Homo sapiens: one gene and its partner. The protein of the gene in region 2 interacts with the protein of the main gene of each other region in a biochemical or structural test. Each region holds a gene or a part of one and is shown on either strand. Other genes may lie near its edges.

Region 1 (2,883 bases), on a different chromosome or scaffold from region 2:
AGGATCACTTGGGACCAAGAGCTCTAGACCAGTCTGGGCAACATGGCGAGACCCCACTTCTACTAAAAAAGAAAAAATCACTGTTGTCTCCTGAGGCCATGGGTTAGGGGCCAAATTTCGTCTTCCATTCATTCATATTTCCACCAGCCTCATCAGGGTCAGGATTAGGGTGGGACAAGTTGGGGCACTCTCTCCAGGGGTAAAATGTAAGGGGATGCCAAAAAAAGACTCTGCAATCGAGTTTAGTAACATTTTAATGCGAAATTTAAAAAAATCAAAATTAATGCAAAATACCCAATGTATTGGCTGCGCACAATGCCAAAAGTTTAAATAAAAGACACTATTGGACCCCACACTAGCACAACCTTCAGAGCTGTGCAAGTAGCGAGGTGCAGGCACAACGACACAAATCATGTTGTGGGTTTTAATATATAGACTTGGCAATTTTCCTTTTTTCTTTTTTTTTTTTTTTTGAGGTGGAGTCTCACTCTGTTGCCCAGGCTGGATTGCAGTGATGCAATCTCAGCTGACTGCAACCTTGGCCTCCCAGGTTCAAGCAATTCTCCTGCCTCAGCCTCGTGAGTAGCTGAGACTACAGGCACACGCCACTATGCCCAGCTAATTTTTGTATTTTTTAGTAGAGATGGGGTTTCCCCAGGTTGGCCAATCTGGTCTCGAACTCCTGGCCTTGAGTGATCGTCTCACCTTGGCCTCCCAAAATGCTAGGATGACAGATGTGAGCCATCTCGCCTGGCCCAATGTTTTTTAATGCTTTTATTTTAAAACATTTTATTATTTGTTTATATATTTATTTGAGACAGCATCTTGCTCTTTTGCCCAGGCTGGAGTGCAGTGGTGCAATCATAGCTCACTGCATCTTGGAACACTGAGGCTCAAGCCATCCTCCCACCTCAACCTCTCAAGTAGCTGGGACTACAGGCATGCATGACCACACCTGGCTAATTTTATTTTTTCATTTTTTGTACAGACATGGTCTTGCTATGTTGCCCAGGCGAGTCTTGAACTCCTGGCCTCAAGTGATCCTCCTGCCTTGGCCTCCCAGAGTACTGGAATTACAGGCATGAGCCACCGTGCCCAGGCTTAATGACTTTAATGTTCTGGGAAAATATTACTATAATTTCATAAAGATACAGATATAGGGGTGCGTGTTTTCCCTTTGCCTTGGGCTCTGTTACAGTGCCGTATGGCACCAGGGCTTACAGAGGCAATGGAGTTTGTGACTCCACTCCCTAGAAATTTGTTGTTTGGGGCAAAGTAGAAAGTCTTTCTGACAAGTGTGATCACTTGTGACAAAAAAGGTAAGTTTTAACGATTGCCTTGCAGCTTAGATCTGTTTATAACTTTTTCTAAAATAGGGAGAACCAAGCAATTTCATCCTTACCCTCAGAAGGAAGCAAGAGGGGTAATATATGTCACTGGTATTGGCTTTTAAATGTCCTTTTGATTTGAGAGAAGGTGTCTGCATTATTTTCTATCTCAAGGTATTTTTAGTTCTTTTCATAATCTATTGCCACTGAAATAACAATTCATCCCAAATTGGACCAGGTAACTAACTTATGAGATAAACTGCCGTGGAATGCAGTCCTTCTTAAGACTTTGGGATATTCATTCATTAGGAAAATAAAATGCTAAAAAAAAAAAAAACTAAATACCTCTTACTGACATAATTCCATTCCCTCTCCCATATATACCTTTCAAAAATACATGTCACATCTGGTTAACGATCTTTTGAAATTTCTCAATTAACTTCTAGCTGGAAACAAAAACAGGCTTAGTTACAAAGAGATTGACACAGGATGCAATGGACCTGACTTTCCACTTAGAAATCAAATACTGAGTGAAATAAATGACTTTCTAAAAGAAAGACTCCCTGCTTGGTCACTGGTATTCATGGGATGTTTTTCTCCAATATCAATTTGTTCACTTTGCACAGGCAATTTCCTGCCATTTCGCCAGTGCCGATTGCCACTACATTGACGTGAAGGGCACCAGTCAAGAAAACATCGAGAAGGAAGTTGTAGGAATAGCACATAAATTCTTTGGAGCTGAAAATAGCGTGAACTTGAAGGTATGTTTGTATACAATAGCAAGGTAAAAATCTCAGGTTTTTCTTTTCTTCAGATGCTTCATAATTCTCATACCTAGTTTATTTGACAGTATATAGTGCTTGGGTTTAGATTCATTTTAGGGACATCGCTGAGCCCCCACCAAAAATGACAATGGAATTTCCATTTACACTTGTGCCCCCGTGCAGGAGGCTTGAGAACTTCCTGCTGCTTCTTTATGTCTTGGGGCTGTCCAGAGGTGTGCTGGCTGTCCTGTTTCACACAGGACAGTAAAGGAAAACAAAACTACAGATTGAGATGAGAGAAAATCAAAGACAAAACCTTGCCTTCTGGCTGGGCATGGTGGCTCATGCCTGTAAATCCCAACACTTTGGGAAGCCAAAGCAGGAGAATCACTTGAGCTCAGGAGTTGGAGACCAGCCTGAGAAACACAGTGAGACTCCATCTCTACTAAAAAAGAAATAAAAATAAAAATTAGTCAGGTTGGGTGGAGCATAGCTGTAGTCCCAGCTACTCGAAGGCTGAGTTGAAAGGCTCACTTGGAGCTTGAGGTCAAGGCTGCAGTGAGCTGATTGCACTACTGCACTCCAGCCTGGGTGACAGAGTGAGACCATGTGTCAAAAAAAAAGCCTTCTGAAGGGATAGAAGGAAAGTTATAGGTTTGAGATCCAATCATAGGCCATGTTTATTAATATAGAATAGAGTATTTATGGCTGGGCGAGGTGGCTCACGCCTGTAATCCCAGCACTTTGGGAGGCCAAAGCAGGCAGATCACAAGGTCAGGAGATCGAGACCT
Region 2 (3,500 bases):
TAACACAATACCTAGCATCCACTGTCACCCACTTGCAGAATATGTAAGCACAAGGAAGGAGCATTTAGGTCTAGGATCCAGCTAATATAAAATTCTACCATGGTACTAGCAATATTAATTTCTACCATGAACAAGATTAGCTGAGTGAAGGAATGCAACAAGTTATAATAGGCTAATTACATGGTGGTAAAGTAGATGCATAAACATAAGAGACAAGATACACCTTTACCAAGCTACCCGTTGGGTACCTCAATAGCCTTGTCATTTCACACAGTCTTTTCAGGGAAGATCTTAACTGCATCCACCTTCTTCTCAAGGGAAGCTGCTCCCAAAAGCCCTGTGAATGCTTACATTCTATGTGCAGCCAAATTATCAATCAAGTGGCAAAGGAGAATAAAAACATATTCTAACATATAAAGACTCAGAAAATCTACCTCAAATGTCACCATTATCAGGAAGTGATTATGGAATGTTTGCCACCAAAATAAAGGAGTATCTCAAACAAGAGTAAGACCTGGTATCCAAGAACCAGGTACCTATCCTGAGGGAGGGTAAATAAAAGTCCCAAGTTGATAACTGAGCCTCAGGCCTAGAGAGAACCAGCTCAGACTGGAGCAGGGGGATGCATGCCTCTAGGAGGTCAATCTGTAAGCAAAAAGGAATACATTATATGATGGAACTCTTGAAAAAAAGAGGATAATTCAAAGGCAGACATTATAAGAAAAACAGGGAAACAATTAGAGATTCTCGTCAAACTAGTTACCAAAATGGACTTTTATTTACCCTCCCCTCTGAGAGGGGCCTGGTATTAGGAATGGTGACCAAGCTGGAGTTTAGTTTTAATGGCTTGGGTTAAAATTTTGTAATGAAAATATCTTTTTGTATTGTATGTGTGACTAATGGTAAATTTAAAACATTATAATTAATTCATAAATTTCAATCCAAGAACTTAGAGTTGGTTGTTTGATGAAAAAGTCAATAAAATAAATAACCAAATAAAAATTAAGAAATTTCACATATACAAAATTTGAAGTAAGAAAAGAGACATAATTACAGACACAAAGAAAATGAAAATAATTGTAATTCCCTTGGAGACACCTCAGCTGTCAATCTCCTCCTCCAACTTCTGACATAGGTATAAGCTATCTGGCCAAGTTGGGGTCTAGTCAGCACTACAAATATATAGATCAGTCTCCTGCCTCTGTGATCAAACCAGGGCTTTCACTGAACTAATTAATTCTGTAAGCTATTATCCGATCTTGGAACTAGTTACTAGCTGTTGAGTTGAGAAGGGAATTCGACATCCATTAAGTAGACAGAGAGTTAGGCTAAGAGCAAGCCACTTATCCTCTCGGCTAGCAAACCTTGATCAGAACATATTTGTACCTTGTTTAAGGACGAGAAAACATGCAATCTATAAATATACTACAGAACAGGGAGAAGGAAACAGAAGTCAGGAAACTTAGAGGCAATACCTACTTCTGAAAGTAATCCACTGCAGATTCTAGAGGAAAAGTAAGAACAAATATCTTGCCATACTAAAACACAAGAAGGCACAGCTTCCATAATTTAAAACCACAAAGACATAGCTTCTATAATTTAAGACTGGAAAGGGCATACACAAGGTGAAATGGTAATTCAGCTGGATGAAATAGAAAAGAATAATTATAAGAAAACTTAACACATAACAAGAGATGATCAGTTTGTGTGTGTATGGGTTCCAATAAAACCTTACAAAAACGGACAGAGACCAGACTACCCAAGGGCCATAGTTTGCCCACTCCTGATGTAGATGGTCACCCACTGTGCCTTTCATGGGGTTTCAAAAGATGACCAGTTTTTAAGGTAGTGAAGAAAGGGCTGGCCTTTCTTCTTGCTCCTTTCAGAAATTGCTGCAAATAATTAAAGACAGAGTACAATTAAGCTGGAAGATATCTGAAGCCATGAAACCACAAAATAGAAGTATAGTTAATATAAAACAGGTATCAAAAGATAAAAAGAGTGGATGCTCATGGCTGGCAGATTTCAGAAAAGTCCAAGAAGACATACTTCCTCATATCTTATACCGCCATATCTTCCCCATTTTTAATATCAAAGTCTAATTATTCCTCCTACTTCAGCCTCCCAAAGTGCTGGGATTACAGGCATGAACCACTGTGCCTGGCCTTGTTTCTTTCTTCTATCAAGGTGCAAGTATTATACTTTGATATGAAAAACAGTCAGTCATTCATTATAACAATGGGATCAGGGTATACAAGCTAGCATCGGTGGTTTTACTGGACTCCTTTCAACACAAGTCTCAAAAGGTAGGAAAGATGGGACCAGAAGAAAGAATCACATTGACAAGTCATTTTTGCACTGTAAGTCTGTTTTGCAAGGTGGGGAGGGGAGGAAAGAAATTCTGAAATGTAAACAACTCTGCAGCTTTGATCTTGATGGGCTGGAGAGAAGTAAAGGCTGAAAACTCACACATACAATCAATACCTTTCATAAGAGAATTCCTGCTAATCTAAAACTCACTCCTAATGCCTCATTGATATTAATATATCTACATAAACTTTCTGCGAAAAGTTTATTTAGAACAAACTCACCTCAATGATAAATAATAAGCAAAAAGGATCAAGATACTACAAGATAAAAGGAAGAAAGGAACAACAAGGCCAGGTGCAGTGGCTCATACTGGTAATCCCAGCACTTTGGGAAGCTGAGGTTGGAGGATTGCTTGAGCTTGGAGTTCAAGACCAGCCTGGGCAACAAAGCAAGACCCTGTCTCTACAAAAAATAAAAAAGTTAGCCTGGCATGATGGTGCATGCCTGTAGTCCCACTACTTGGGAGGCTGAGGTGGGAGGATTGCTTGAGCCCAGGAGGTTGAGGCTGCAGTGAGCCATGATCACACCACTTACTCCACCCTGGGCAACAGAGTGAGACCCTGTCTCACAAAAAGAGAAAGGAACAACAAAAACGAATAAAAGAAGAGCAGTAATAAAAAAAATGTTGCCAAGGAGAAGATAAAACTTGTAACCAAACATATCACCATAATCTAATGAGATGACCACATCTGAAAAACCAAAGTCTAATGTAGAATTAGCTATAAGAATTTATAGAAGACGTATGGGTCAATGGAACAGAATGGAGAGTTCAGAAATAAACTCTCACATTTATGGTCAATTGATTTTCAACAAGGGTGTCAAGATGACTTAATGGGAAAAGAATCATATTTTCAACAAATGGTGCCGGGACAACTGGATGTTTACATGCAAAAAATAAAAAAGAGGTTAGACCTCTTCTTCACACCATACACAAAAATTTATTCAAACTAGATCATAGACATATATGTAACAGCTACAACTATCAAACTCTTAGAAGAAAATATGGAAGTAAATGTGGCCTTGGGCTAGACAAAGCCTTCCTAGATGTGACATCAAAAGCACAAGTGACACAAGAATAAAAAGATAAATTGTATGTCATCTATGAGTTCATCAATTAACTCAACAACCCA

Evidence for each region.
Region 1: the proteins of F8 (region 2) and PHYH form a complex in vitro, tested with the Homo sapiens proteins (one study listed by BioGRID).

What each region holds. Positions count from the first base shown.
Region 1 is NC_000010.11:13,280,182-13,283,064, reverse strand, and holds part of PHYH (phytanoyl-CoA dioxygenase, peroxisomal isoform a precursor), read left to right. Parts: intron 1-1,954; coding exon 1,955-2,089; intron 2,090-2,883. UniProt on the Homo sapiens protein: Catalyzes the 2-hydroxylation of not only racemic phytanoyl-CoA and the isomers of 3-methylhexadecanoyl-CoA, but also a variety of other mono-branched 3-methylacyl-CoA esters (with a chain length of at least seven carbon atoms) and straight-chain acyl-CoA esters (with a chain length longer than four carbon atoms).
Region 2 is NC_000023.11:154,932,224-154,935,723, forward strand, and holds part of F8 (coagulation factor VIII isoform a preproprotein), read right to left. Parts: intron 1-3,500. UniProt on the Homo sapiens protein: Factor VIII, along with calcium and phospholipid, acts as a cofactor for F9/factor IXa when it converts F10/factor X to the activated form, factor Xa.